Regions from separate parts of the Homo sapiens genome. Here regions 1 and 2 are each linked to region 3. Evidence: fine-mapped expression QTL. A gene starts in region 3. Each other region holds a variant in brackets. All regions are shown on one strand. Distances are between the middles of the regions.

Region 1 (10,190 bases), 43 kb after region 3:
GGGAGGCAGAGGTTGCAGTGAGCTGAGATTGCACCACTGCATTCCAGCCTGGGCAACGGAGTGAGACTCTGTCTAAAAAAAAAAAAAATATATATATATATATATATATATATATATATATATATATATAAACATGTATATATATATATAAACATGTTTATATATATTTTTTATATATGTTGATATATATGTTTATATATAAATATTTTTAAAAATTATATATAATTTTTATAAATATATTTATATATATATTTTTAAAAATTATATATAATTTTTATAAGTATATTTATATATAAATATGTATAAATTATATATAATTTTTATAAGTATATTTATATATAAATATATATAAATTATATATAAATATTTAAAAAATATATAAACATGTTTATACATTATATGTTTATATATATTTTATATATAGTTTTTATATTTTTATATATAAATATATATTTATGTTTTATATATAAACATATATAAAATATATAAACACATATATAATATGTATAAACATATATATAAAAAACATACTTAAAAAAATTAAATTTAATTATAAAAAGATACTGAATGGGCTGGATGTGGTGGCTCACGCCTGTAATCCCAGCACTTTGGGAGGCCGAGGTGGGAAGATCAGTTGAGGTCAGGAGTTCGAGACCAGCCTGGTCAACACAGTGAAACCCCATCTCTATTAAAAATACGAAAATTAGCCTGGTATGGTGGCACACTCCTGTAATCCCAGCTACTAGGGAGGCTGAGGCGGGAGAATTGCTTGAACCCAGGAGGCAGAGGTTGCTGTGAGCCAAGATCGCTCCACTGCACTCCAGACTGGGTGACAGAGCCAGACTCTGTCTAAAAAAAAGAATACTGAATGGATAGAAGCTAAAAATGCTACAAAACTCATCTAATTAGTTGCTGTCAATATTACATGTTTTTTTCGTTTTTTAAAAAATAATAATTGTATACATTCATGGGCTACGTAATGTTTTTTTTTTTTGGGGGGGACGGAGTCTCGCTCTTTTGCCCAGGCCGGAGTGCAGTGATGCAATCTTGGCTCACTGCAAGCTCCACCTCCCGGGTTCACGCCATTCTCCTGCCTCAGACTTCCGAGTAGCTGGGACTACAGGGGCCCGCCATCGCGCCCGGCTAATTTTTCGTATTTTTAGTAGAGACGGTATTTCACTGTGTTGGCCAGGATGGTCTCAATCTCCTGACCTCGTGATCTGCCCGCCTAACCTCTAAAAGTGCTGGGATTACAGGAGTGAGCCACGGCGCTCGGCCCTACATAATGTTTTAATACAAACAATGCATAGTGATCAGATCAGGGTAATTAGCATATTGGTAATTTCAAAGATTTATCATTTCTTTGTGTTGACAACATTTAATATTGTAAGAATTAAAGAAAGAGGAGAGAAACACAAAGGATGGCTTTTCAGTCAACAGGGGCAGGTTTATTTTAAATAAACCTGAGAAGGGCGGTTGGCTGAGTTAGGTCAGAGCCACACTCTCTAACAGACTAAGAGTTTCTAAAGATTCAGGATAGGAGAGTTTATAAGAGGCTTGGACTGCTTCTGTGTCTCTTTGTTGTGCTTATCTGGGAGGGACAGTTGCGTTTCTATTCCCATACACCTTTTTGCAGCTGCAGGCATATCCCCCAAGTCTGCTTTTAGCTTCTCTATCTTAGTATTCCTGAAGGGAAAGAAAAGTGCTTATTAAGGCCCACTGTCTTACTGGGGCCCATTGTATGAGGGTGAAGTTTGGCAGTTACCCAAGAGACTTTCTCCTCACCTCCCTCTGTTTCCAAGCGGTCTTATCTGTGTTTTACTGTCTGCTCTTTCTGGCTGCTTGTAGTTAGAAGAGAAGTGATTTCCTTGAAATGCATGAGGCTAGAAAGGGAGCTGGAACTTAAAGTGGTGGTGTTTGTCCGAGATGACGGTGCTCCTGCTCTAGCAAATATCCTGCCAGGCGTAGTGGCTCACGCCTGTAATCCCAGTACTTTGGGAGGCGGAGGCTGGGGGATCACCTGAGGTCAGGAGTTTGAGACCAGCCTGGACAACATGGTGAAACCCCATCTCTACTGAAAATACAAAAATTAGCTGGGCATGGTGGTGCACACCTGTAATCCCAGCTACTTGGGAGGCTGAGGCACTAAAATTGCTTGAACCGGGGATGTGGAGGTTGCAGTAAGCCAAGATTGCACCACTGCCCTCCAGCCTAAGTGACAGAGCAAAACTCCATCTTAAAACACACACACACACCCACACAAACACACACACACAGAGCAACATTCAATATCCTCTCTTCTAGCTATTTGAAACTATACAACGCATTATTGTTAATTATAAGCAACCTGCAATGCTGCAGAGCACTAGAACTTATCCTCCTATCTAGCTGTAATTTTGTATTCTTTAGCAAATCTCTACCTATCCTCCCCTTCCCAGTCTCTAATATCCTCTGGTTCCACATTTTACTTCTATTAGATCAACTTTTTTTAGCTTCCACATGTGAGTGAGAATATGCGGTATTTAACTTTCTGTTAAGATCATTTGCCTACTTTATAATCAGACGTTTTCTTGTTTTGTTTTTTGCTATTGAGATGTTTGAACTCTTTGTATCTTCTGGATATTAATCCCCTGTGGGATGAGTAGTCTGAAAATATTTTCTCTGATCCTGTAGGTTGTCTTTTCACTCTCTTGATTGTTTCCTCTGCCGTGCAGAAGATTTTTAGTTTGATATAATCCCATTTGTTTATTTTTGCTTCTGTTGTCTGTGCTTTTGAGGTCTTATTCGTAGAACCAAGCCTGGTGACATATTGATTTTGAACTTAGAGCTTCCAGAACTGTGAGAAAGTACATTTCTGTTTTTTAAGCCACCCAGTCTAATGTAACAATAATATATTTAGATACCTTTTAACTTCTCTCCCTGCCCCCACCAAATATCTAATGGTCAGAATAAATAATAACAGGGAAGACAAACATGTTTTGTTTTGTTTGAGAATGAGATGCACCTGATCACAGTGGATTTTAAGCTCTTTTTGTATATATACTAGGGAATGGCTGGATGTCTTTTTTCATAATTATTATACTAGGATCACATACTAGTTAGTAACTTCAAATAGGGCAGTCAGATAGGCTTCACGTGCCTCCTTCAAGCACCAAAAGCTATACTCTGGAAACTCCAAGATCAGTGTTAAAGTCCTACACAATTTCTCACACCAGATGCTGGATGAGACATTTGAAAAATAAAAGTTTAGTGAACTTCTAACAATGTCTGGTTTCAAGGAATGCCAGAGTGCCAGGCCTGTAGTGATAAGATTTCTTCACTCCCTGCTTGATTTGCAGGCAATCAGCTTAGAAAGAGCTGTGGTATAGAAAACTTGTTCCTTACCAGCCCCCTGCCTTTTGCCTGGAGCTCAGCAAGCTAGAGGTGGCATTGATACCAGAAAGAGATGGCTGAGCAGCTGCAAACACAACTGAGAGAGGATCTGGGCTATGTAAATTTTATTTCAAAATAAATTGCTACCTTCACAAAGTTGTGGAAAAGTTACTGCATTTAGATGTGACAATTAGGCTAGGTGCAGTGGCTTACACCCTAATCCTACCACTTCAGGAGGCCGGAGCAGGAAGATTGCTTGAGCATAGGAGTTAAGAGGCTACAGTGAGCTATGACTGTACCACTGTACTACAGCCTGGGCAATGGAGCAAAAACTTGTCTCTTGGAGAAAAAGAAGGAAAAGAAAAGAGGAGAGGAGAGAGAGAAAGAAAGAAGAGAGGGAAAGAAAGAAAAAGGAAAGAAAGAAAGAAAAAGGGAAGAAAGAAAAAGAGAGAGAGAGAAAGAAGGAAAAAAAGAAGGAAAATGGACTCTCTATGTCCTGTGGGTTCATGCTGAAAAGTTAAAAAACAATAAAATAAGGACAAATTCTTTGATAGCTGTTTAAAGAGACAGAGAGGAAATACATATAATGATCTTATATATTACTGTGTGTGGTAGTTTGTCTGCAAACATGGCCATCAACAATTTCTCCTACCCTATGCACTCATGCTGCTTCTCCCATCAAGTAGTCTATTTTCCCTTCCTTTTAACTGAGGTGGCCTGGTGACTTCCTTTAATCAATACAATGCATCCTGTGTGACTCTGCCACTTCCACACTTAGGCTTTAAGTGTTCTGGAAGCTTCCACCTTCAACATCTTTGAAGTCAGCCACTGTGCTGTACAAAAGCTCAGGCCAGACCACTGAATGATGAGAGCCATGTGGAGAGACACTCTAGAAGATGAGCTTCTCTGGAATGGTTTGGCCCCAGGTGTGCTTCGGGCTGAACATAGCCTCATGAGTGACTTCAAATACAACAAGTGGAGTGGAAGAACCACCCAGCTAAATTCAGTCAACCTACAGAATCAAGAGAAATAATAGATCATTGTTATTTTAAGCTACTAAATTTTAGAGTGATTTTTTTTTTATGAAGCAAGAGAAAACTAAAATATCTTGTGTAAATGTTTATTTTTATTTTTTTGAGACAGTCTTGCTCTGTCACCCAGGCTGAAATGCACTGGCACAATCTCAGCTCACTGCAACCTATACCTCCCAGGTCCAAGCAATTATCGTGCCTCAGCCTCCCGAGTAGCCAGCATTAAAGGCATGCACCCCCATGCCCAGCTCATTTTTGTATTTTTAGGCGAGTCAGGGTTTTGCCATGTTGGCCAGGCTGGTCTTAACTCCTGATGTCAAGTAATCTGCCAGGCTTGGCCTCTCAAAGTGCTGGGATTACAGGCGTGAGCCACTGCACCCAGACTAAATGTTTATGGTTTTTTTTTGTTGGTTTGTTTGTTTTTGAGATGGAGACGCGCTCTGCCACCCAGGCTGGAGTGCAATGGTGCGATCTCGGCTCACTGCAACCCCTGCCTCCCGGGTTCAAGTGATTCTTCTGTCTCCGCCTCCCCAGTAGCCGGGATTACAGGCACATGCTGCCACGCCCGGCTAATTTTTTGTATTTTTCAGCAGAGACGGGGTTTCACTGTGTTGCCCAGGCTGGTCGAGAACTCCTGAGCTCAGACGATCCACCCGCCTCAGCCTCCCAAAGTGCTAGGGTTACAGGCATGAGCCACCGTACCTGGCCATTTATGTATTTTTCAGTCTCCTGAGTGGCTAGACTATAGACATCCACCACTAGTCAGCTAATTAAAAAAATTTTTTTTTGTAGACATGGGGTCTTGGTGTGTTGCCCAGGCTGGTCTGGAACTCCTGGCTTCAAGTGATCCTCCCACCTTGGCCTCCCAAAGTTCTGGGTTTACAGGCATGGGCCACTGTGCCCAGCTATCTGCTGTTCTTAATCCATGAGACTGTGATGATAATTTGGGACATCTGGTCTCCAAAGAGAAAGAAGCTGGATGGCTCATGGCCTGACAATTGATGTAGCTTTACTGAATGCTTTACAGATACGGAAAGCTAAGAGTAATGCAAAACTACAAGGGCTGCA[T/C]AGTATTCCATGGAGTATATGTACCACATTTTCTTTATCTAGTCTTCCATTGATGAGAGCATGTCCTTTGCAAGAATACGGATGGAGCTGGAGGCCATTATGTTACTGGTGGAAGGTATCTGAGTTACTGGTGGCAAATCTGTATGGGTCTGCAGCAACTTCAATTCTTACCTCCTCAGAAGAAAGAATTCAACTGAGAGGTATAAGGCAGAAAAGGAGACCGAAACAAATTTCAGAGCAGGAGTGGAAGTTTATTTAAAAGGCTTTAGAACAGGAAAGAAAGAAAAGGAGAGTAGGCTTGTAAGAGACCCAAGCAGGCACTGAGATCAAGTGTGGTGTTTAACCTTGACCCTGGAACTTTATAGGCTGGCTTTCCCATGACTCTTCCCTTAGGATGGGCTGCCTACACACACAGCGCCCTCCTTATCTTTGGGTGCACGTGTTTAGGAAGTTGTACACATGCCCATCTGAAGCTTTCTCCCCTTTTTTGGTGGTGTTTTCTTGGAGGGTCATACTCCACCATTTTGTCTCTTAATGCGCATGCCTGGGAAGTTGCTTCGCCCTGGTGTCTGTATTCAATTAACACCTTAGTGCAAAAGGTGTGGACCATCAGGAAATGGCCTCTCCCTGGCACCGGCTGCCAATGTATCACTTTTAGAGAGGTGATGTGATAATTACTGAACCATCATCCACATTCCTAGTGGGTTGGGGAGTCTTCTCCTGACCCCTGCTCATGCCTAACTACCTGTAACAATTATCCTTAGCAAACTAATCCAGGAACAGAAAACTGAATATGCATGTTTTCACTAACAAGTAGTAGCTAAATGACGAGAACACATGAACACAAAGAAAGGAACAACAGACACTGGTGTCTACAGGAGGGTGGAGGGTGGGAGGAGGGAGAGGATGAGGAAAAATAACTAATGGGTACTAGGCTTAATACCTGGGTGATGAAATAATCTGTACACCAAACCCCCATGACACAGACTTACCTATGTAACAAACCTGCACACGTATCCCTGAACTTAAAAATTAAAGTTTTTTATTTTACTTATTTATTTATTTTTTAGACAGAGTCTCGCTGTGTTGCCCAGGCTGGAGTGCAGTGGCGCAATCTTGGCACACTGCGAACCTTTACCTCCCAGGTTCAAGCGATTGTCCTGCCGCAGCCTCCCAAGTAGCTAGGACTACAGGCACCTGCCACCACGCCTGGCTATTTTTTTTTGTATTTTTAGTAGAGATGGGTTTCACTATGTTGGCCAGGCTGGTCTTGAACTCCTGACCTGGTGATCCACCCACCTCGGCCTCCCAAAGTGCTGAGATTACAGGTGTGAGCCACTGGGCCCGGCCTAAAATTAAAGTTAAAAACAAAACAAAACAAAAAACTATAAGGGCCAGACCCTTACTCAGGGTCTTTTATGGAACTTTCTCTGACTGGCCCCAAACCAACACTGCTATAGCCCAAGTCTCAGTCCCACTACTACTGTGTGTAGCGTTAAGATTCTCTACTCTCAGAGTCTAAGCCGAATGGCAGAAGACAAGATAAAGGAAAGGTTTTCCTTCCTCCTTCTAATGAAAGGTGCACTGCCCCACATTATTTTCTGTTCTAGAATCCGTCTCCCCTCAGGAGGACTGCCACACCTCCAAGGGAAGAACTGCACCATCACAGAGGGTGTGGTCTTGCCCTCCACAACTCTCTTAGACCAATTGCCTCAGAACCCATTGAACATTTCTCTTTCTTCTTTCTTTCTCTTTCTTTCTTTCTTTCTTTTCTTTCTTTCCTTCCTTCTTTCTTTCCTTCTTTCTTTCCTTTCCTTCTCTCTTTCTTTTCTTTCCTTTCTTCTTTCTTTTCTTTCTTTCTTCTTTCTCTGTCTCTCTCTCTCCCTTTCTCTCTCTTTTTTTTGACAGAGTCTTGCTCTGTCACCCAGGTTGGAGTGCAGTGGTGCTATCTTGGCTCACTGCAACTTCTGCCTCCCAGGCTCAAACGATTCTCGTGCCTCAACCTCCAGAGTAGCTGGGATTACAGGCACTCGCCACTATGCCCGGCTAATTTTTGTGTTTTTAGTATAGATGGGGTTTCTCCATGTTGGCCAGGCTGGTCTCGAACTCCTGGTCTCAAATGATCCACCCGCCCCAGACTCCCAACATGCTGGGATTACAGGTGTGAGCCACTGTACCCAGCCCCACTGAATATTTTGCTTAAATCTTTGGCACCCTTTAACAAGGTAATGGCATTTGATGCCCTTTTAAGTAAATTAATTAACAACACATTTACATCCCAACTAAAAGAAAGTACTAGAATATATGAATGAGGATTTTGTATAAGTAGCTGAATAGTGGGATTGGGAAGTAGTATAAATAGCACTCGGAAAATCAGGTTTTAGTATACCAGTAATATATATGTCTATAGAACCCCATTATAAACCTGTTACATTTTAGTGGGAAGTCATTAAAGCCTGCAAAAATGAGGAATGTACCCAATAGGCAGAACCGGAGACTATGATTTTAAAAACTATTTAATGTAGGCTGTGAAGAACTTTGCATTGTGAGAACTCCTTCCTTTCTTGCTCCCTGGCTATCTTGGTGGCTGCTCTTGACTGGGGGGCATCGCATCTCTAAGGCAGGAAGATGCTGGCTGCAGTGAAGATGAAAAAGTCACTAGAGTTGATAAACTCTAGGTTCCAACTCATTGTGAAAAGTGGATAGTACATGCTGGGATGCAAGCAGACTCTGAATATGATCAGACAAGGCAAAGCGAAATCAGTTGACCTCACCACAACTGCCCAGCTTTGAGGAAATATAAAATAAAGTACAATGCCACACTGGCCAAAACTGGTGTCCATCACCACAGTGGCAATAATTTGGAATTGGGCACAGGTTGGGGAAAATACTGCACACACTGGCTATCATTGACCCCATTCTGATATCATTAGTAGCATGCCAGAGCAGACTGGTGAAAAGTAAAACAAGCACAATTTTTCTTTTTCTTTTTTTCTTTTTCTTTTTTTTTTTGTCCAGGCTGGAGTGCAGTGGCATGTGATCTTGGATCACTGCAAGCCCTGCCTCCTAGGTTCAAGCAATTCTCTCTCCTGCCTCAGCCTCCCAAGTAGTTAGGATTATAGGCGCCTGCCACCATGCCCAGCTAAGTTTTGTATTTTTAATAGAGAAGAGGTTTCACCATGTTGGCCAGGCTAGTTTTGAACTCCTGACCTCAAGTGATCTGCCCGCCTCGGCCTCCCAAAGTGCTGGGATTACAGGCATCAGCCACCGTGCCCAGCCATCAAGCAAAATTTTTCTTTAATAAAACTTGCCTCAGCTTGTTTCAAACAAATATTTAACATAAAAGTGAAGTCATAATTTTTTAAGAAGAATAAACTATGGTACAAGTGGCCCAATTTCCAAAAATTAGACTCTTCCCCCAAACTTTTTTTCTTTATTAATCGGAGAAAGAAACCAGTGATATACCACTGGGCATATTTTGAAGGTTGCATATATGCTACAATATTGTCTCATGCATTTGGACTTTTCAGGTTTTTTTCTTAAGATGGTCATTTTTTTCTTCACTCATATATTTTTCATCCCTATTTCATTTTATTTATTTCTGAGATGGAGTCTCGCTTTGTCGCATTGGCTGGAGTGCAGTGGCACAATGATGGCTCACTGAAACTTTGAACTCCTAGGCTCAAGCAATCCTCTCACCTTGGCCTCCCAAAGTGCTGTGCTGGGATTACAGGTGTGATCTACTGCACCCGGCCTATTTATGTGTGTGTGTTTTTGTGTGTGCGTTTGAGACAGGGTCTTGCTCTGTTACCCAGGCGGGAGTGCAGTGGCACAATCATGACTCTGCACGGCCTCAACCTACCAGGATCCAGTGATCCTCCCATCTCAGCTTCCCAAGTAGCTGAGACCACAGGCATGTGGCACCACACCTGGCTAATAAAAAGATTTTTTTGTAGAGACAGAGTCTTCCTATGTTGCCTAAGCTCTATTTATGTTTTAAATTAATCTTTGCTCATTACTGTGGTGAGTTACTCTTCACAGAAATGCATCAGGAAATTGAAACAGACTTTTTTGTAATGTAAAAGTTGTGATTGGCTGGCTGGGGCTGGGGGCAGGGGCAGGGGCAGGAAGTGGAGAAGTACTGTGTGTCTGTTGTGTTTGTACACTATTTCATTTCATAACAAACCACTATTCTACTATATCAAAGTCATAGATTAAAAAATTTAGGCTCACAGAAGTTATTTGCTGAAGGCCATGCTCACTTCAGACCAGACACTTTGCATTCATTGTATTACATAATTTTGTCTCACTAAGGTCCTAAGAGATGCTGTACTTTTCCTGTTTAGGAAGAAACTGAGGCTTAATGCTTTCCTTCAACTCAAACTCACTGTTATCTGACTCTAAGGTCTGCACCTTCACCTGAGTTCACTGTGAGTGAACCTGTAGCCTGGGGACAGAGATCTTGTTACTGAAACATGAGTGGTTTGGTCTAGGTCCTGCTGCTTGCTGCATAGAAAGCCAATCACTGAAACGACGAGTATCACCAAGGAAGAAAGCTTTAGTCAGATGCTGCAGCCAAGGAGATGTGAGCTCAGTCTCAAGTCCATCTCCCTGACTACTAAAATGCCAGGTTTATATATCAGGGACGAAGTGTAACAATGTGTAAGAAAACAAGAACTGGGGAGGGGCAAGGAAGCAGTCACCTGGTGCCGTGATCTG
Region 2 (10,190 bases), 21 kb before region 3:
ATACTAAAATATAGTCAATCAATAAGTATATTTCTCTCTCTTACAATTCTGATGCTATTTCAACTGGAAAATTTAAGTCGTAATTTCATATTAAACCAATATAAGGGGTAAGAAAAATATAATGGAGCACAGACATTTTCTATTGCTTCTTCCCACTTTAATAAAAATCATTATTAATATAGTATTCAATTAAGCTAAAATTATACTTTTAAGATATTTAAGAACTGATACTTGGTTTTTGGATTATTAATGTACTTTGTTTTTGTACTGTTTCCTACCTAAATGATTAGAGTTAACACTGGGGGTGGAAGAGTGCAGGGGGGCAGGGGAACCTTTACTTGATCCCTCTATCTACCATCATGTTATCTTTCTATTCCTCCCTGAAAAAGTTTTTGACATAGTAATTGAAACCCACTGGGCCAGCCTCTGCTTCTGGCTTCTCAAATCCAGATTCTCCACTGATGCCCCAACTTGGAAGTTCACCCACGCTCAGTTCCAAAGTTAATTTCATCACCATGTCCCAGATTAAAGAAAAAACAAACAAACAAACAAACAAAACAGGCCAGGCGCAGTGGCTCATGCCTATAATCCTAGCACTTTGGGAGGCTAAGGTGGGAGGACTGTTGAGGACAAGAGTTCAAGACCAATCTAACCAACATAGCAAGACCCCATCTCTAAGAAAAAAAAAAGCCAATTTCATTAATTCAAGTATTTATTAAGTGCCAACCACTTGCCAAGCATTAGGATTCAGTGATCTTTTTTTTTTTGAGATGGGGTCTTGCTATGTTGCCCAGGCTGGTCTTGAACTCCTGGGCTCAAACGATCCTCCTGTCTCAGCCTCCCTAAGAGGTGGGATCACAGGTGTGAGCTACTGCACCTAACCATTCCATGATCTTTTAAAAATTATTTACATTAATCACTGAAGGGGATGAGAAAACAAAATTAAAAAGAAAAAAATTAAAAGAAAAAATTATTAAATAAAAAATTAGTATAAAATCTACACAGTTGCATATATAAAGTTATTGCATAACTTTTTAACCTCTATTGTCTCAGATAACAGTAATAAGATAAAAAATTTAAGAAAAATACCTTCAAACCAATCAAAGAGAGAAATAATGTTTGGATTCCCTTGGTGAATTCCTGAACAAGATGGCTGTAACAGTTTTCCAATGGTTTAGTTATTAACTCCAATACCTATAAAGGTTAAAGCAAAACCATGCCTTGTGTTATTATTAAAAATAAATGGTATTTAATATAAATATTTTATACTTTACATAAATCTTGTGGAGCCAGAAGGAGACCAAAAAAGTAAAGACAAAAGAATTTAACATTTATCTTCATTAAAAATGGAAGAAAAACAAATAGGAAAAATATTTTTTCATTGTCTGAAATACATACATTTTCAAACCACTCTAATTCTTAATCATATAGGAAAGAAAGCATCATTTAAAGAAAATTAATAATTAATTTTTAAAAGATGATTTCATAAAAGGGCTAGACCAACAACCAAGAAAAAGACAAAAACAACCAACCAACCAAATTGAGTATTACCTGTTGTTTGTCTTTTTCTTGCAATATGAGGATACTCTCCCCAATAGTATCTATTCCAGCACGACCAGCTCTGCCAATCATCTGTTTATATTGATTCCTCTTTAAAAATTCCTTAGCAACATAGGGAGCTCTTAAAATAACTCTGTGGAATTAATGAAAAATGATACTCTACAGCAAACAGCACCAATTTAAAAAATTCTTAATTTCATTATATATTTGTGATATTAAATTTAATGACATACTAACACAAAATAATAGGTAACTAGTGTTTACCAAGAATCTATGATTTCTTAGGTTTTTACACATATTATCTATAATTCTTACAAAACTCTTAGTTATAATATACTTTTTTATTTCATTTTTATAAAGGAATTAATTACAACTCAGTTAACTGACTTATCCTAAACTAAAAAATTAGTAATTACCAGAGCTATCATTTGAACTCAAGTCTGCCCAGCTGCAATGCCTATGATCAATCTGTAGCAGTAGTCTCCAAAGCGTTTGGACTTTATACTCCATAAATAAAAAATATGACCATACACCACTAACATATACATATCTATTTATGAATTTTTATTATTTTGAACTGTATAAAATTGCAGATGTCAACTGTTTTTGACCTACAAAAATGGTGATTTCAGCCAGGCTCAGTGGCTCATGCCTGTAATCCCAGCACTTTGGAGGGCTGATGTGGGAGGTTTGCTTGAGTCCAGGAGTTTGAGACCAGCTTGGGCAATATAGTGAGATGCAGTCTCTACAAAAACAACAACAACAACAACAAAAAACTGGCTGGGCATGGTAGTGTGCCCCTGTAGTCCCAGATACTTGGGAGGCTAAGGTGGGAGGATCACTTGAGCCTAGGAGGTTGAGGCTGCAGTAAATCGTGATTACATCACTGCACTCCAGCCTGGGCAACAGAGTGAAACCCCATCTCTTAAAAAAAAAAAGCAATTTCAATTATGTTCATATATACAGAAGTCTATAGTCAGTTAGTCAGCTTTCTTATCCAAAGGGAAGAAAAAACCTATTGTTTACCTATACTAGTCAACTTCCTCTTTATTTATAAATCTCATATGCAGAAAAGATTACCAAATACTTGAAGAAAACTAATAACATAAAAGAAACATAACATGAATATACAGAATAAGTGACCACAAAACCAGATAATATAGGGATCAGAAGAGAACTTTTAAAAATCCTAATTAGCATTAACAGAAAATTCCAAAGAGTATTATATCCACAATATAAGAGTAGACTATTGGCGGGGCGTGGTGGCTCACGCCTGTAATCCCAGCACTTTGAGAGGCTGAGGGGGGCGGATCACGAGGTCAGGAGATGGAGACCATCCTGGCTAACACAGTGAAACCCCGTCTCTACTAAAAATAAAAAAATTAGCTGGTCGTGGTGGCAGGCGCCTGTAGTCCCAGCTACTCAGGAGGCTGAGGCAGGAGACTGGTGTGAACCCAGGAGGCGGAGCTTGCAGTGAGCGGAGATTGCGCCACTGCACTCCAGCCTGGGTGACAGAGCGAGACTCCGTCTCAAAAAAAAAAAAAAAAAAAAAAGGAGTAGACTATTGGCCGTGTGTGGTAGCTCATGCCTGTAAATCCCAGCACTTTGGAAGGCGAAGGCAGGAGGATCACGAGGTCAATAGATTAAGACCACCCTGGCCAACATGGTGAAACCCCGTCTCTACTAAAAACACAAAAACTAAAAAACATTGTGTTGTGTGCCTGTAATCCCAGCTACTTGGGAGGCTGAGGCAGGAGAATCACTTGAACCCGGGAGGCAGAGGTTGCAGTGAGCAGATATCATGCCACTGCACTCCAACCTGGAGACAAAGCGAGACTCTGTCTCAAAAAAAAAAAAAAAAGGAGTAGACTATTATAAGGAAAGAACAACAAAAGAGAGTTCTTAGAAATAAAAAAAAATTAACTTTATTTAAAAATTCATAAAAAATTTGAAGGGCCAGGTGTGGTGGCTCACACCTGTCAATCTAGCACTTCGGGAGGCCACGGTGGGCAGATCACCTGAGGTCAGGAGTTTGAGACCAGCCTGGCCAACATGGCGAAACCCCGACTCTACTAAAAATATAAAAATTAGCCAGGTGTGGTGGTGGGCGCCTGTAATCCCAGCTACTTGGGAGGCTGAGGCAGGAGAATCGCTTGAACCCAGGAGACAGAGGTTGCAGTGAGCCGAGACCGCACCACTGCACTCCAGCCTGGCCACTGGGCAACAGAGTAAGACTCTGTCTCACAAAAAAGAAAATTCAATTGAAGAACTGAATAATGAATGAAAATAGTTAATGGATACAGTTAATGTAGTTAATGGATATCAGTTAAAAACTCATTTTTTTTTTTGAGACAGGGTCTCACTGTTGCCCAGGCTGGAGTGCAGTGGTACAATCATAGCTAACTGCAGCCTCGATGTCCTGGGCTCAAGCAATCTTCCCACCTCAGCCTCTCGAGCAGCTGGGATCACAAGTGTATGCCACCATGCCCAGCTAAGTTTTTAATTTTTTAGTAGAGATGAGGTCTTGCTATGTTGTCCAGACTGGTCTCAAACTCCTGGGCTCAAGCAATCCTCCTACCTTTGCCTCCCAAAGTGCTGGGATTACAAAAAAACTGATTTTTTGATATGGAAGGTAAAGTTGAAAAAAATTACATGGCACAAACGTGTGCTTACATTCTTCCACATTCTGAAAAATGTGTAAGAAAAGAGATACGAAAGCTGAATCTAAGAGGCCTCAACCCTGCCTAAGTGAAATTATAAAAGCAAGGAACAGAGATAATGGGAAGAAAAAGAAATAACAGAAAAAAAATTACTCAAAGAAGAAAGGCATAAAGCTTAGATTAAAAGCATCCACCCAAGTGCTAAGCCCTATGAATGAAAAGTAGTACTGTTGGGATTGTAAAATCAAACTTCCTGGGTTCAAACACTGGCTTTAAAACTCATTTGTTGGAAAATGAGTTGGGAAAAAGTTATGTAACTTTTTAAAGTTGGGAAAATTATTTAATTATTTAGTGCCTCAGTTTCCCCTTCTATAATAGGTGTGTAATAAAATATGACCTTCCTCACAGAGTTATTGTGAAGCTGTATCAAGTCAATGCATGTAAAGTTGTTACTACATGAAAGGGAGGGGAATGTAGTAATTACAACTATTATTATACACCATGACAAAATTGGGAGGTTAAAGAGAAAAGTCTAAAAGTTTCTGGAAAAGAAAAACAGAAAATCCATGCAGAGACAAAAATGAGCAACATTGGCCTCTAGAAAATATGGAACAATATTTACAAAATCCCTAAAGGAAAAAAATTGAATCTAGAATTCTTTTGCTAGTGAAGTGTAAAAGTGTGAGGCCAAAATACAGATATCTTCAACTATGCAAAGAGTCAAAATGTTTTACCCCCTAAAGCGGTATTCTAAAAAGGATTACTCAAGGAAGGCAAAATTAAAAAAAAAAAAATCAGAGAAGAAAGATGTGGGATATAAGAGGCAGTGGTAAGCAAAAAAGAAGTATGATTTACAGGTAAGTTTAAATACTACATAAGATGAAAGAAAATGTTTAAATCTGGCACTAAAATTCTAAGTAATTGCAACATTCATGGGGCAGAGTAGAATATACTAAGGACATGCTAAGCCTCTTTTTATGTTCAGGAGAGGACAGTTATTGATTAATTCTAAAGTAATAAAAAATGTTTGGTTACAACTTAAAATTTTAAGAGTAACCACTGGAATAATAGAAACAGGATATATAACTTTCATTTTTTTCTTCAATTGTCTGAAAAATGGAAAACTTAATGAGAGACAGAAATTGAAAATAAAAGAATGGAAAAAGGTACATACGTGG[CA/C]AAAAAAAAAAATGAGTCCTGGTATTCAAAGCAAAATTATTAAATGAGAAAAACAAGTATTTATTGTATTGATAAAAGGTATAATTCGGCAATAAGATATTTGAAGTAAACCTTTGTATATCTAAATAGTTTTGAAATATAAAAAGTAATAACTTCTAGAGATGCAAAAAGGAGAAACTGATAACTACATAATTAAAGTGGGAGACTAACACACTTCTCTGAAATTGATAGACCAAGGAATCAAATATAGTAAGAAAATAGAGAAGCCGATAACACAATGAACCTCTGTGATCTCGCTGAGATGTACAAAACTGCATATTCAACTGAAAATACATATTTTTTTAAACACTCATGGAAAGTTTATAAAAATTGATCATTTATTAGCAAAATACCCCATGATCATAAATTATAAAGGGGAGAAGTCAATTACACAGGCCTACACCTTTGGTAATAACTGGAAAGGTAATCAAGGGCCTGCTTTAAAATACATATATTAGACACAAATTGCCTATGGATCAGCTCTCCAAGATTTCAAGGAAATCTCTATGTTAAATAAACTCTTTCATATCATAAAAAAGGTAAAACACTTGCCAACTATTTCTACAAAACCAGATTAATAGACCCTAACATCAAAACCAGATATAAAGAGCAGAAAGGATGGAATTCTAATATCAAGAAATCTATTAACGTTATTTTTCATTACATATTTCATTACATATTCATTAAAATATTAAAGAAAATAAACCAACCAATCAACTCAGCATATGCTAAAAGAACATTTGATAAATTCTCATCCACTACTGAGAAAGCATAAAACAACAAAACTCCTCGCAAGCTAGAAATGGAAAAGTTCTGAGCCTGGTCAACACTTACTTATCTCTTACCTTCGAGCTGGTAGGTTGACACCTGCCGCTAGGGTAGATGTGCAGGTAAAAAGACAGAGCACTCCTGTGGAGTAGGCCTCCTCCAAGAGTTTCCTTTCATCACTTGTTAAGCCACTGTGGTGATAGGCAACTCCAAATGGGATAGTGCGCTTTAAAACAGGACACAGGTTGCCATTGCCAATATTCTTCAAGTTCTTAATCACCTCACATTTTTCTTTCTCCTTATGTTTCAGATATTCCCTATGAAAAAGATCTGTTAGAAATATGAGCCCTTGATCTTTTAGTGACAAAATTTCTACCATTTTCATTTTAGTAGATGCTAATGTAAACATTCTTTAATGTACTATTTCCATTGAGTTAAGTACATTAAATGTTCTTAGAATTTTGATTCTGACTTCATTAACTATTAGGCAGTCTCTCAATCTTTTTGTGGATTACAGAACCCTGTGAAAATCTTATCAAAACTAAGGAAAGGCGAAATGCGATGGCTCATGCCTGTAATCTCAGCACTTTGGGAGGTAGAGGCAGAAGGATTGCTTGAGCCCAAGAGTTCAAGATCAGCTTGGGCAGTGAAGCAAGACCACCTCTACAAAAAATAACAAAAATTAGCCGGGCATGGTGGTGCATGCACCTGCAGTTCCAGGCTATGGGGGAGGATGAGGTGGGATGATTGCTTGAACCCGGGAGTTTGAGGTTGCAATGAGCTATGAACCTACCAGCCTGGGTGAAAGAGCAAAGCCTTGTCTAAAAAAAAAAAAAAAAAAAAGGAAAAATATAACTATTTACATAAATACAACACTTTACATATAATTTCAGAGGGTTCGTGGATTTCCTAAAATTCATTCCTGTACTTCCTTTGAATCCATGGACACCAGGTTTAGACCTTTGCTCTGGATGTTATAACTGTTTTTTTCTTTATAACATATATCTTTATAGGGGATAGTTTTTTTAAAGACATAAATTTTCTTTTCTGAAGATGGAAACATACATATTATTAAATCATACTTCCATGGTAAAACACTGCCTAAACACTTGCACTTTAGAAACTTCACATCCTACAATGTTTCCATCACTTAGCCAGTGTCTCCATCTTATTACCTTGAATTACTCTAAGAAAATGAATGATTTACTGAGAATTTTTTTAATGATAATTTAATTTCCTTAAGCTTTTATAATCAAAATCATTGTAAAAGCAGACTGTTACCAAAATGAGCAACTCCTTCATCTTATTCCAAACATTTTTATATTTTGCTATTCAATAAATTTAAGTCTATCTTAGACCAATCCATGATAGTAGGATTGAAAGAGGAGGTAGAGGTTGACTAGATTAGCATTCAGGTTAATAGACTATGAATAGTGATACAGCATTAGCTAAGGGGCTGAAAGAAATCTCAGAAAATGATAAAACCACACATGGGACAAACAGGTGTATAAAAAACTGAACTGTTAGTAGTTAAAGTAACTTCATACTTATCTCTATGAATACGACAGAGCCAATATTAAGATACTACAAAATTATAAGACAACACATTTCTTACTCAGGAAATTATATCCAAATGTCCATACAACTAAGTGTGAAGTTTACTAAGAAAACAAAGGCAGGCCAGGCGCAGTGGCTCACGCCTGTAATTCCAGCACTTTGGGAGGCTATGGGGGGCGGATTGCTTGAGCTCAGGAGTTCGAAACCAGCCTGGGCAACATGGTGAAATACTATCTCCATGAAAATTACAAAAAATTAGTTGGGAGTGGTGGTGTGTGCCTGTAGTCCCAGCTACTTGGGAGGCTGAGGTAGGAGGATCACTTGAGCCCAGGAGACAGAGGCTGCAGTGAGCTAGCTGAATTTGTGCTACTGCATTCCAGCATAGGTGACAGAGTGAGACCCTGTCTCAGGAAAAAAAAAAAAAAAAAAGGAAAAGAGAAAAAAAGGCAATGGAAGATACAATTCATTTCCACAGTGGTAACAGTGATTAGTCCTTTGACTGACTAAGCCAGTTGTTCCTGTCCTTGGCTATATGTTGGACTTGCCTGGGGAGCTTTACAAAATGATATCTGGGTGTCACTCCCAGAGATTCTGATTTGTCTAAGATGTAGCCTGGACTTTGGAATTTTTAAAAGCCTCCAAGATGATTCACTATGCACCCAAGGTTTTGAATCACTGACCTAATATTACTTAACATTCTCATACATATAGTCTTAGGGTTTTGTCTTTTTTTTTTCCTTTTCTTTTTGAGACTGAGTCTCCCTCTGTCACCCAGGCTGGAGTGCAATGGTGTGGTCTCAGCTCACTGCAACCTCTGCCTCCCAGGTTCAAGTGATTCTCCCGCCTTAGCCTCCCGAGTAGCTAGGACTACAGGTGCACGCCACCACACCCAGCTAATTTGGTATTTTCAGTAGAGACAGGATTTCACTATGTTGGCCAGGCTGGTCTTGAACTCCTGACCTCATGATCCGCACACCTTGGCTTCCCAAAGTGCTGGGATTACAGGCATGAGCCACCGTGCCTGGTCTTCTTTTTTTTTTTTGATGGAGTCTCGCTGTGTCACGCAGGCTGGAGTGCAGTAGTGCGATCTCAGCTAACTGCAACCTCCGCCTCCCGGGTCCAACAGATTCTCATGTCTCAGCCTCCCCAGTAGCTGGGATTATAGGTGCAAGGCACCACACCCAGCTAATTTTTTGTATTTTTAGTAGAGATGGGGTTTCACCGTGTTGGCCAGGCTCGTCTCAAACTCCTGACCTCAAGTGATCCACCCACCTCGGCCTCCCAAAGTGCTGGGATTACAGGCATGAGCCATGGTGCCCAGCCACCTTAGAATGTTTCTCTGGCTATTTCACATGTGATTTTTCACAGTTAAAATTTCTTTCTTCAAGGTCAAGGCCTTCAGTATACTAAAACAACTTAATATGATGTTTTGCAAGGCATAATTAGTGTTTGCCCAATAAAATTAATACATAGTCTGTAATTCCTAATAAAAATAAAACAGGCTATTTAAAAAATATTAACATACTTGCTTAAAAATTTGCATATCATTTCTGCTACATTTTCACAGTTCTTCTTACTAGGACAAAAAACTAAGCAGGAATAATTGGGAATAACTTCTGTCACCAATGCTACCAAGTGATCAGGATCCATCTTTTTTAGGGTATCAGAATACTGCAAAACAACAAGATGTAGGAACAAAGTGGTTAGTAAACATGAAACCCTGTCAATTTTTTACCAGTGTGATTTGAAAGGTAAATAAACCATCTATAATTCTAAACTTCTAATTTAATAAATCTGATCATTTAAAAGAAAAGATGAAATCTATATTAAACATCAAAATGTTCAATCTCACTTTTCTTTTAGGTTATTATGATTTTCTTAGGTCTAGTTAGTCTAAAAAAAAACCTAGAATTAAACAAGTGAATTAAAGAAAATTAAAGAAGTGAAAATAGTTAATGTTATTAATAGCCTCACTACATGCCCATCTCCACCACAGCAGAACAAAAAAGTCCACAGAGAGAAACACAGATTGATCCTAATAATAGTTAACGGACTGTGTAAATAAGACATGCCCTTTACAACCATTAAGTTTTCAAAAACACAGATTCAATCATACTACTGAATTATGACAATTTTTGTAGTCACATGAGGAACACAAAGAACATGAAGAAAAAATGTGAAGTTATTTAAAATCTATTTCTTCAACTTTACTAAAGACATAGCTGTAGAATAACACATCTTCACAGAATTCTAAAACTACTGTATAATCCCTTCTTCCCCTTTTTAATATCCTTCATACAAGTCATAAAACACTAAAATTTACATAGTAGACATTAACATTTTATACACCAATATCTGAACTACATGGTCCATAAATTATTCTTTTGTTGTTGTTGTTGTATGAATAAACATTTACAGGAGAGTTTT
Region 3 (10,190 bases):
AAACCTTGTCTCTACTAAAAATACAAAAAAAAAATTAGCCGGGCGTGGTGGCGGGCGCCTGTAGTCCCAGCTACTGGGGAGTCTGATGCAGGAAAATGGCGCGAACCCAGGAGGCGGAGCTTGCAGTGAGCTGAGATGCGCCACTGCACTCCAGCCTGGGCAACACGCGAGACTCCGTCTCAAAAAAAAACAAAAAAACAAAAACAAAAACAAAAAGATGAGTTAGATAGAGCCTTGTCCTCAGGATATTCATTCTGGCAGACTAAACAAAAAGCAAGGTGCTAGCAGAAAAACAGAGGGAAGAACAGAGGGAAGAAAGTTAACGTCTACTTCCAGGGCAACACACACCATTAGCTCTTAAGTCATGAACCTCACAATTTGGATTCTTGTAGAGTCTTTTATTAGACTTTGTTTCCTGTAGTTCTGCTTCTCCAACCTGATTGTCTTCTCTGCAAGAACCCAAGTTTTCATATCATTCATAAGATCCTAACAGGAGTTCCAGAAAACTTACGAAGTGGAAGGTTGATGGGGCTGACCCTCCAGTATGGCAGCAACTGTCCCTTCTTGGTCTAAAATGACACATATCTGAAATATATGCAAGGACCCTGGATTTTTGAAAAACATTACAAGATACCTTCTTAATATTATTGCTTCTTTGCACTTAAAACAAGTTTGTCCAACCCACGGCCCTCATGAGGCCCAGAATGGCTTTGAATGTGGCCCAACACAAATTTGTAAACTTTCTTAAAACATTATGAGATTTTTTTTTTTGCAATTTTTTTTCTTGGCTCATCAGCTATCGTGTTACTGTATTTTATTGTGGCTCAAGACAATACTTTTTCCAAAGTGGCCCAAGGAAGCCAAAAGATTGGACATCCCTGACTTAAAACTTAATTGCAGCTGTCTTTAAAGATGTCTAGCTTTGGGAAAGGCAGCACAAGGCAGAGCATCTGGGTGGTGGCAGGGATGCACCCGTGGGGAGAGGTAGCTGCGGCTGCTGGTGTGGGGGGAAAGATGTTTGGTTTAATCAACAGTATTACTAATAACTGACTTCTTTCACTCAAGACATGTGAGTGTCAAAGACATACCACAACAGCTAGGTTTTGGTAGAGAAGACAGAGCCAGCCAAGGAAATACAACTAAGAAAGCTGAGGATCTCTACTAGACAATCGGGGTCAAAAAACAGGAGTGGTTGTAAGGACATCCAGAAACAAGAATTTCAAGAAGGGTGTAGTCAATAGCATCAGGTAAGTTATTGAGAAGTCAGGTAAGGTAAACATTAAAAGTAACACTGTGTTTAGACGTCTCAGTCATCAGATCTTAAGTGAGAGAATGAGAGCACAGAACCCAGAATTAGAGTGGGGTAATTTACTAAAGTTCTTACTTAGAAGCTACCAATATAATTATTGAAAATCATTACCAACATTGAATTTGGCATGTCTTTGAACCAGAATCTGACTTGCTAACAACTTATTATCCCTTTCTTATAGATGAGGAATTAGAGGAATTATGTCAGGTAAGGAAACAGACAGAAAGGATAACTGGTTTGATAAGTGTGACTGTGAGGGAAGGAAAGAGGTTCAGTGGTAGCAGGACAGGTAGGAATGGAAGGGGCTGAGAGATCACTGATCTTTTGTTTTCAAAATGAGAAACAGTATGGACCATGAAAGCATTTGCTTCTATTTACTTGCACTAATATTATGGTAATGATAGGAAAAAAATTTTTTTATTCCAGCAAAAAGCATTACCATATAATTTTTCAATTCCCTTGAATTGGGCATAAAGGTCTCTCACTTTGCTGGGTAATGAATAAAAAGGACCAAGGTCATTTGATGATGACTCAACTGTTTTCTTAGCAACATTAATTTCCTCAGATAGGAGAGTGTCTTTGAGCTGTTTACTTCTAGAAAATATTGGTGTCTGGGCCTTCGCATTTCCAGTCATGGCATTTTTTAGATGATCTTTAATACTTTTTCTCCTGTTCATATCTGAACTAGTTCTGACTTTGGAAGAGGACTCATCATTTTGCTGGGGTTGCTCTATGCAATTATGGGGCAGTTCCTCATTCACAGTGTTGTGAGAGGATGACTTCCAATCCCTTTCTTTCATAGAATGATCACCCAAATCATTTGAAGAGTTCTGCAAATTTTCAAAGTATATAGCCTGTGAGGAAGGTACATCATACAAAAGATCAGCTCCAGGTTCAATAGTGACACCTTCATATCCACTCTGGTTCTCTGTGTGCTTATCAGTTTGTAATTCAGTAAGGTTGCCTATGGTAGTAATGCTGAGTTTGTTTTTGATACTTTCCGAGCAAAGATTTTCAGTGGCAAAGTCTGTAGCATGTTTCTTATGTTCAGGGAGTTGCATATATTTTTGTTCCAGGTCGTCAACTTGAGCTATAAAGGAGTTTTCAGTAAAGCTATCATAGTCACCAAACATGTCCACTTCACTGTCATTAGGCTGCAAAGAGAACAAAAACGCTTATGGTCAATTCCAGTTTCATTAAGAATAAAAGCTTCACCAGCCTGGCCAACATGGTCAAACCCCGTGTCTACAGAAAATACAAAAATTAGCCGGGCATAGTGGCATGCTCCTGTAATCCCAGCTACTCGGAGGCTCAGGCAGGAGAATTGCTTGAACCTGGGAAGCGCAGGTTGCGGTAAGCCCAGATCGCGCCATTGCACTCCAACCTGGGCAACAGAGTGGGACTCTGTCTCAAAAAAACCAAAACAAACAAACAAACAAAACCCCCAAAAAACACTTCAGCCTAGGGCTGTACCAAGTATATAATTATATGGTCACATATGGATCACAGACCTATATGTAAATAGATATCTTACAGCTGAAGAAATGGAGGCCCAAAGAGGTTAAATTACTTGCCTAAACAGCAGGTTCAGGAGTGTTACGATGATACTGAGATTCTAATTTTTGAGACAGGGTCTGGCTCTGTCACCCAGGCTGGAGCACAGTGGCTCCAGCCACTGCACGATCACAGCTCACTGCAGTCTTGACATCCTGGGCTCAAGCGATCCTCCTGCCTCAGCCTCCCAAGTAGCTAGGACTACAGGTGCAGGCCACCACACCCGGCTAATTAAGAAAAAAAAATTTTTTTTTTTTTTTGTAGAGACTGGGTCTCTGTTGCCTAGGCTGGTTTTGAACGCGAACTTCTGGGCTTAAGTGATCCTCCCATCTCTGCCTCCTAAAGCACTGGGATTATAGGCATGAGCCACTGCACACGGCCAGATTGTAATTCTTAAAGCTGTACTAAAACAGCAGGAAGACTGGTAGACGTCTACTGAAATGTCAGCGCATTCGAAGTTTCTGATAACTGCAGCGCTTCCCTCCCAGACTACAATCTACAGTGACTGGCCTCTAACAGAAACATGGTTGTACCACTAGACACTCCAAGGAGTTCCTAGGAATTTGGAATTGAGACTGAGAAACTGAATACTGACTTGGAGTGGTCTGCTACACAGAAGACACACAAACCTGGAGGCAGCAATATAGTAAAGTGATTAAGACAACAGGATTTGGAGCAAGAACTGTACTATCTCAACTTTTCAGGGCCTGATTACTGTCGTAAAATCTAGATAATATAACTAGCTTAACATAACGGGTCTTCAATAAACAGCAGATTTTATTTGTACAGTAGGAGCTGCAGTTATCTGGAAGCCTAGATTTGTGTCTCAGTCATGCCACTTAACTGCTGCGTGCACAACTTTTATGTCTCGGGGTTTACATTTCATATTTATATAGAAATGTAAATAACAAGGCAATCAATACCTCCTAAGTGCCGATTAACAGTGGTAACGAAGACGAGAGAAGTAAACGAAGGCGATAAAACTGGTCAACTCTTTGCATCTGGGAAGGATGCCAAAAGTTTGCAGTTTCAAGTTCCAAGTCCTCCGTACCTGGTCTCCCACCCCTCTGTCAGTGGGCATGTGACGTAGGAGGTCCGGGTTTGTATCACCACCTCCAAGGACGAGACATTCCGGGGAATCTGAGAGTAGAAGGGGCTGTACCTCAACCGGCAGTACGCCCGCGGTTTTCCGCCTCCTGTTCTCAGCCACCATTTCCTCCTCCTCTTTCCCCTCATCTCCGGGCACGAGCTCGGCCGCGGTGGGAGCGCCAAAAATACACCCCAAGCTTGGACGGTTCCTTTTGGGGAGAGACACCCGCCGGCGGATGCGGGAACCACATTCATCCATGGCAAGGACCCAGGGCCCTATTCAGACGTCGTTCTCAGTGACCCAGACGCTAAGCCCATATGGAAGGGAGAGTGGGACGCCGGAGCCCGCTTCTACATCCACCTTGGGAAAAGACCCCAAGTTAGCTCTCAGGGCTCGCGGACCGGAAGCACGCATAAACTTCTACCCTGTCCAATCATAAGCCTCACGTGACCTGCCGCGTAGGGAGGGCACGAACAGAAAGGTGCTGCGCATGCGTATTGAAAAACCTCACCTACTCTCGCGGGTCCTCAGCGTTCTCCTGCGGAACCTTTGAACGGGGTACTCGAGCCCACAGGGGAAGAGCAGCGGAAGGGGCCTTTCGGAACGATTTGGAACGAAAGGAAGTGGAAGAAACGCGGAACCATGGCCGCTGTGGTTGCTGTTTGCGGTGGTCTAGGGAGGAAGAAGTTGACACACTTGGTAACGGCTGCTGTCAGCCTTACACATCCCGGGACTCACACGGGTAAAGTCTCCATATCCTATGCTCCATTGTAGCGCTGCAGGCATTAACCTTAGTCCTAATGGTTAGAGTCGTCCCTGTTAGCAAAACGACTCTGGTTTCTAGGCGATTAAGTTTCTCCAAGATGGGTGGGAATCTGTAATTGCCTTTGACTGTTTTAGTGTCGTCTAATCCACTCCTTTAAAGTATTTAAACGTATGAGGAAGTTGGAGTGGTTCTTAAAAAGCAGAGACTTTCCTAAGATCTCTGGATAATCTTAGTGAGGAAGGGACATTTCCAGAGTCGCCCAGCAGCAAATTCCAGATGTCTAAGGTCCCCAAACAGAACAAAATTGCATAATTTTTGCAATTTTATCTTCTCTGTGCTTCTCTATAAATTCTTTCTGGGACGGGTCTGTTACTTTCTTTTTGGTATGACAGTGCCTTTCTGTTGCTTCTCCTATAAGAATTTGCATTAAGAATTTTCTCTAACCATGGAATGAAGGGAAAATAAATGTCAGAAAGAGCAGGTATGGGCGGGAAAATATGTTCTTTTCCCCCTAAGCCCTGGAAAGCACACCCATGTTGAGTCTTACTCTGTCCCAAATATAAAAGTTTTTAACCATTCTGAATATAATACAAAACCTTTCTTTAATATCGTGTCCCTTAATTCATCCTGTCTCCATAAAAACAAAAATCTTTAGCTATTCAGCTAAGAAAAAGAAATGGTTAATTGCTGTTTCTGTTTAATCGCAGTGCTTTGGAGAAGAGGTTGTTCACAACAGGTATCCAGCAATGAGGACCTGGTAAGAATTTTTTTTTCTATTAGTAAGGCCTTTGCAAATATGACCAAAATGTTTTTCTTTTTAAAACGAGATCTGGTATTAGACTCTAACATCTTTTATTTTAGCTACTTGAATAGAGTTCTGCCGTAGGACAAAACAATTTGATAATTACTCTGAGTTCAGAAATGATGATGAATTGATTGTAGTCATGTAGTCAGCTGAGTTTTGAAGTAGGGGAATTCCTAGATTAGAAGCAAAGCTGCTATAATACCATATTTTTCTTCCTAGATCTTAAATTTAAGGATATGTGATTTGGGAATTGTTTTTTTTTTTTTTACATAGCCCTTTGTAAGCAAATGATATGGGAATTTTAAAAGGTAGTTTGGGTGAGCAGAATTTTAGATAACTGAAAAGAGACTGTACAAAGCTTAGCTATAGGTTGGCTATAGTATTAACATGGACTTTCTGAAAGCACAGGTTCTTGCTACATGCAAAGGTATTTTGACACTAATTAGACCATACAAAGCACTTGGCACAGAGCTGAAGAGTAGTTACGTGAGCTGAATGTAAATTGGAAAGTTTGAGGAATTGGAAAAAACAAAAGAACTTGTCTAGTTTCTCTGAGCATCTGTCTTGGTAATCTAATCCATGCACCATACTTTAAGAAAGTAAAGGGACATTATTTCTTTTTTAGTTCATAAATCCCACTTTGTCTCTAATCAAAGTTATGGACCCTCTCCACAGAAAAAGGCACACAGTCCCATTCATTTGAAGTTTTGCATACGATTACAGGGAGTCATGGGCTTCAAAGCCATTTCTAGATTAAGAACCTCTATCCTGGAGACAGCCATACTGACTGTAGGAAGGAGGCACTGTGACAAAAGCATTAGAGGCAGTGGTGGTAACAGAAAAGCCAAAAAGACTGATACAAACTTATATAGTAGCCTGGGGTGATAAAGTCAAAGAACCTTTTATTACAGTAAGTCATGGGCCATTATCTGTGTATAAAAATAGTGATAAAATACTTGATAGAGACATGGGGATGGATAAATTAGGGATTGTACTCATTTAAGAATGGCATATGTTATCTATTGTGTTGTAAGTTTCCTTAAATCTAAAAATTTTTTCATTATCTACAATCTGAGCAAAGCATTGGAACACTTTCTTATCAGACATCATTTTTGTTCTGCCATAAAATTTTATTCTATGAAGATTGTACTTTATTCCAGAATCTTCCCATGCGTTAATCCGTAGGCTAAACTAAAACAAAATAAAGTGCTTATACAAAATATGTACACAGTAAGAAAGGTATAACTAATCCTTTGAATGGATTTGAATGTAGAATAGTAACCTTTTAAAATTCAGAATTAACACATCCTATTATCAGACTTTTCGTTTTTTTCCCTAGCCCATTTCAATGGAAAATCCTTATAAAGAACCTCTTAAGAAATGTATCTTGTGTGGAAAGCATGTAGATTATAAGAATGTACAGGTGAGATCTGGTTTTACTTCACTATATTTTAGGGTTTTGCTTCTGATAGATCTGCTTAAAGAGAATCAAGTCAGTTTATAGCAGGCTTTTGTAGAGGTAACTGTTTTAGCAACTTCATAATTTCAAATTTGGTTATAATTCTATGTATAAGCTTATCTCTGCTTTATTCAAGTAAAAGCACCTTGGCTTTCCCCCACTTACTGTTATTTCCACTCTGTTTTTTTCACTACCCCAAACATCTTAATAGCTCCCTGTGGCAGTAATTCTCAATTGGTGAGGGTCAGAACTTTGGAAAAAGCTCATCTGGTGAAGCTGATCTCTTTATCTCACCACCCATATCACTGATTCACATATTACTTATCTCTTGTCTAACTCTCAGCAAGTTAGAAGTTGCAAATTTGGGGCAAGTGAATAGCGCTAGAATTCTGTATGTTGGCTGGGTGTGGTGGCTCACGCCTGTAATCCCAGCACTTTGGGAGGCCAAGGCGGGCGGATCACCTGAGGTCAGGAGTTTGAGACCAGCCTGGCCAATGTGGTGAAACCCCGTCTCTATTAAAAATACAAAAATTAGCTGAGTGTGGTGGTGCATGCCTGTAATCCCAGCTACTTGGGAGGCTGAGGCAGGAGATTTGCTTGAACCCAGGAGGCGGAAGTTGCAGTGAGCTGAGATCGTGCCATTGCACTCCAGCCTGGGTGACAAGAGTAAAACTCTGTCAAAAAAAAAAAAAAAAAAAAAAAAGAATTCCATATATTGACAATAGTATAAAGTGATAGCTGCCTTTGAGGAAGAACCAAGAATTACAAAAACACACATACTAGGAAGATTATGCAAAGTGCCAAGAATAATGACTAGCACCTAGAAAGGTTCTAAAGAAGTATTTAAATAAAACATAAATTATAGCAAATGCCTGGTGTACTTGTACCTCTTGAAAATCTCATTACCCCCTGATAATTTATCTTAATGATTATCAGAGGGTAATGTGATAGCTTGTCAGGATAGATGAAATTTTTTAGTAGCTTGTTTCAAGCAATATTTTAGAAAGGTATCTGTGGAAGTCAAGAAAACAGATTTACCATTGAATGAATATGCTGATTAATCTGCTGTTTAATTATATATAGACTTGACACACTGGATAGAAAATATTTAAAAGGTAACAGGAGGATAACAATATTTTTTTCTTATATTTTATGAAATGTGTCTGAAATTTAGTAAAGCTTTATATAACCTGAAGGTTGTTTTTTGAAATTTACACATTCAGAAATAAATAACAGATACTTTTTTTTCCCCTCCACATAAAACTCCAAAACAGCTTTTGTCCCAGTTTGTTTCTCCATTTACTGGATGCATTTATGGAAGGCACATTACAGGTATGTTCTTTTTTATTATGGGAATATAAATGTAGATACGAATTATATCAATCTATTTCTATCATTTAAGAAAACTCAAATTTTCAAATTGTGCTATAAATTACTACTAGATCAGATACTACAGGGACTAGAGCTAGTTACTATGAAAAAGTCTCTTAGGCCAAGAGGATTATTATTTTGCTGTCTTATGCAGAGTTAACTATATAGAAAAACTGGGCTTTAAAAAACTGTTGTTGATGTTTTGGAATATACTATAATCATTCCTAGATTGATACTTAAACTTGGTGTCAGCAAACTATGGCCCATAGGCCAAATTCGACCTGCTCCCTTTTTATCTTGATTAGGTTCATCATATACAAATGCCACTTTTTTTTTTTTTTGAGATGGAATCTCACTGTCACCCAGGCTGGAGTGCTGTGGCACAATCTCGGCTCACTGCAACCTCTGCCTCCTGGGTTCAAGTGATTCTCATGCTTCAGCCTCCCGAATAGCTGGGATTACAGGCATGCACCACCACGCCTGGCTAATTTTTGTATTTTTAGAGATTGGGTTTCTCCATGTTGGCCAGGCTGGTCTTGAATTCCTGACCTCAGGTGATCCACCTGCCTAGGCCTCCCAAAGTGCTGGGATTACAGGTGTGAGCCACTGCACCCAACCCCACTTGTTTTTGTAGTTTTGTTTACGTAGTGCCATATGGTTGTTTTCGAGCTACAACAGCAGAGTTGAGTGGCAGTGATGGAGACTGTATGGCCCACAAAACCTAGATTATTATTGTGGCCCTTGACAAAAATGATTTACCAATCCTTGACTTAAAAACTTGTTGAGGCTGGGCATGTTGGCTCACACCTGTAATCCCAGCACTTTGGGAGGCTGAGGTGGGCAGATCACCTGAGGCCAGGAGTTCAGGACCAGCCTGGCCAATATGGTGAAACCCCGTTTCTACTACAAATACAAAAAAATTATCCGGGTGTGGCGGTGCATGCCTGTAATTCCAGTTACTAAGGAGGCTGAGGCAAGATAATCGATTGAGCCTGGGTGGCGGAGGTTGCAGTGAGGCGAGAGAGCACCACTGTACTCCAGCCTGGGTGACACAGGGAGACTCCATCTCAAAAAAAAAAATTGCAAACTTTAAATATTGACATTTTTTATGAATAAGAAAGCTTTTTATTTTACAGGTCTTTGTGGGAAGAAACAGAAAGAAATCACAAAAGCAATTAAGAGAGCTCAAATAATGGGTAAGAAAGAATACCTCAACAACTGAATTGAGCTAGCTGAAATTTTGCTCATTATGTTTTGTCAAGAACTTTAATTATCTCTTTACAGGGTTTATGCCAGTTACATACAAGGATCCTGCATATCTCAAGGACCCTAAAGTTTGTAACATCAGATATCGGGAATAAATTCTATCACGTTACCACTAATAAACTTATTTTACAGTAAGTGGTTGTATGATGCCAATACTGACTCAAACCAACCTTTGGATAGAAAAGTGTTTGAGGAGTGAGGTAAAGAATGACACTTCCCCTTCATACCAATGTCCATTAAGCAGATTGCTTATTTAAAATGTTAACACTCATCACATTTTATCTATGTTGAATAAAAGTGGTTCTGTGTGATTGTCATTTATATCTGATCCCCAAATAGCTCATACAATAATCCATTCAATAGAATGGAATTAAAACTGTTCAGAATGATTTTCCAACTAGCAAATATAAGTATGCCTGGTTAAGATATCTTCCCTTTGTAGAAATGTTACATTGGGATGGATAGTGGTGCTGTCACAGAAGGACAAAATATTCCTAGACGAGTCTACCCTCAAACCAGTAGTGTCTTTTACATGAAGAGATGATTTACACCTAATAGACATTGAATATG

Direction of the effects. Positions count from the first base shown, and alleles are read on the strand shown. Sizes are in standard deviations (SD) of each study's normalised expression. Not every link is listed here.
For the expression in B cells of the gene that starts at base 4,576 in region 3, C is the high allele of the variant in region 2 and CA is the other (large effect, 1.0 SD a copy in Schmiedel 2018).

The links. PIP is the estimated chance that this variant, and not a neighbour inherited with it, causes the effect. A credible set is the group of variants that fine-mapping cannot tell apart.
Region 1: its variant is the best candidate, but not a certain one, in a credible set for the expression of MRPS18C in whole blood (INTERVAL, PIP 0.54).
Region 2: its variant is the best candidate, but not a certain one, in a credible set for the expression of MRPS18C in B cells (Schmiedel 2018, PIP 0.72).

The regions. Positions count from the first base shown.
Region 1 is chr4:83,494,600-83,504,789 of GRCh38, forward strand. It overlaps the pseudogene RPL30P5. Among named protein-coding and RNA genes, the nearest start is that of ABRAXAS1, 15 kb to the left of the region's middle. The variant T/C (reference allele first, on the strand shown) is at 5,472.
Region 2 is chr4:83,430,575-83,440,764 of GRCh38, forward strand. It overlaps HELQ (helicase, POLQ like), which reads right to left. Exons shown (of 18, transcript NM_133636.5): 8 at 9,289-9,434; 9 at 6,284-6,523; 10 at 1,552-1,693; 11 at 1,090-1,194. Among named protein-coding and RNA genes, the nearest start is that of HELQ, 20 kb to the right of the region's middle. The variant CA/C (reference allele first, on the strand shown) is at 5,399.
Region 3 is chr4:83,451,483-83,461,672 of GRCh38, forward strand. MRPS18C (mitochondrial ribosomal protein S18C) reads left to right here and starts at 4,576. Exons shown (of 6, transcript NM_016067.4): 1 at 4,576-4,695; 2 at 5,427-5,476; 3 at 6,864-6,947; 4 at 8,258-8,315; 5 at 9,491-9,550; 6 at 9,639-10,190. The coding sequence starts at 4,596. The coding sequence ends at 9,715. It overlaps HELQ (helicase, POLQ like), which reads right to left and starts at 4,341. Exons shown (of 18, transcript NM_133636.5): 1 at 3,915-4,341; 2 at 1,749-2,463. The coding sequence starts at 4,211. ABRAXAS1 (abraxas 1, BRCA1 A complex subunit) reads right to left here. Exons shown (of 9, transcript NM_139076.3): 9 at 8,035-10,190. RefSeq lists enhancers at 3,589-4,419, 3,848-3,897, 4,238-4,347, 4,334-4,628.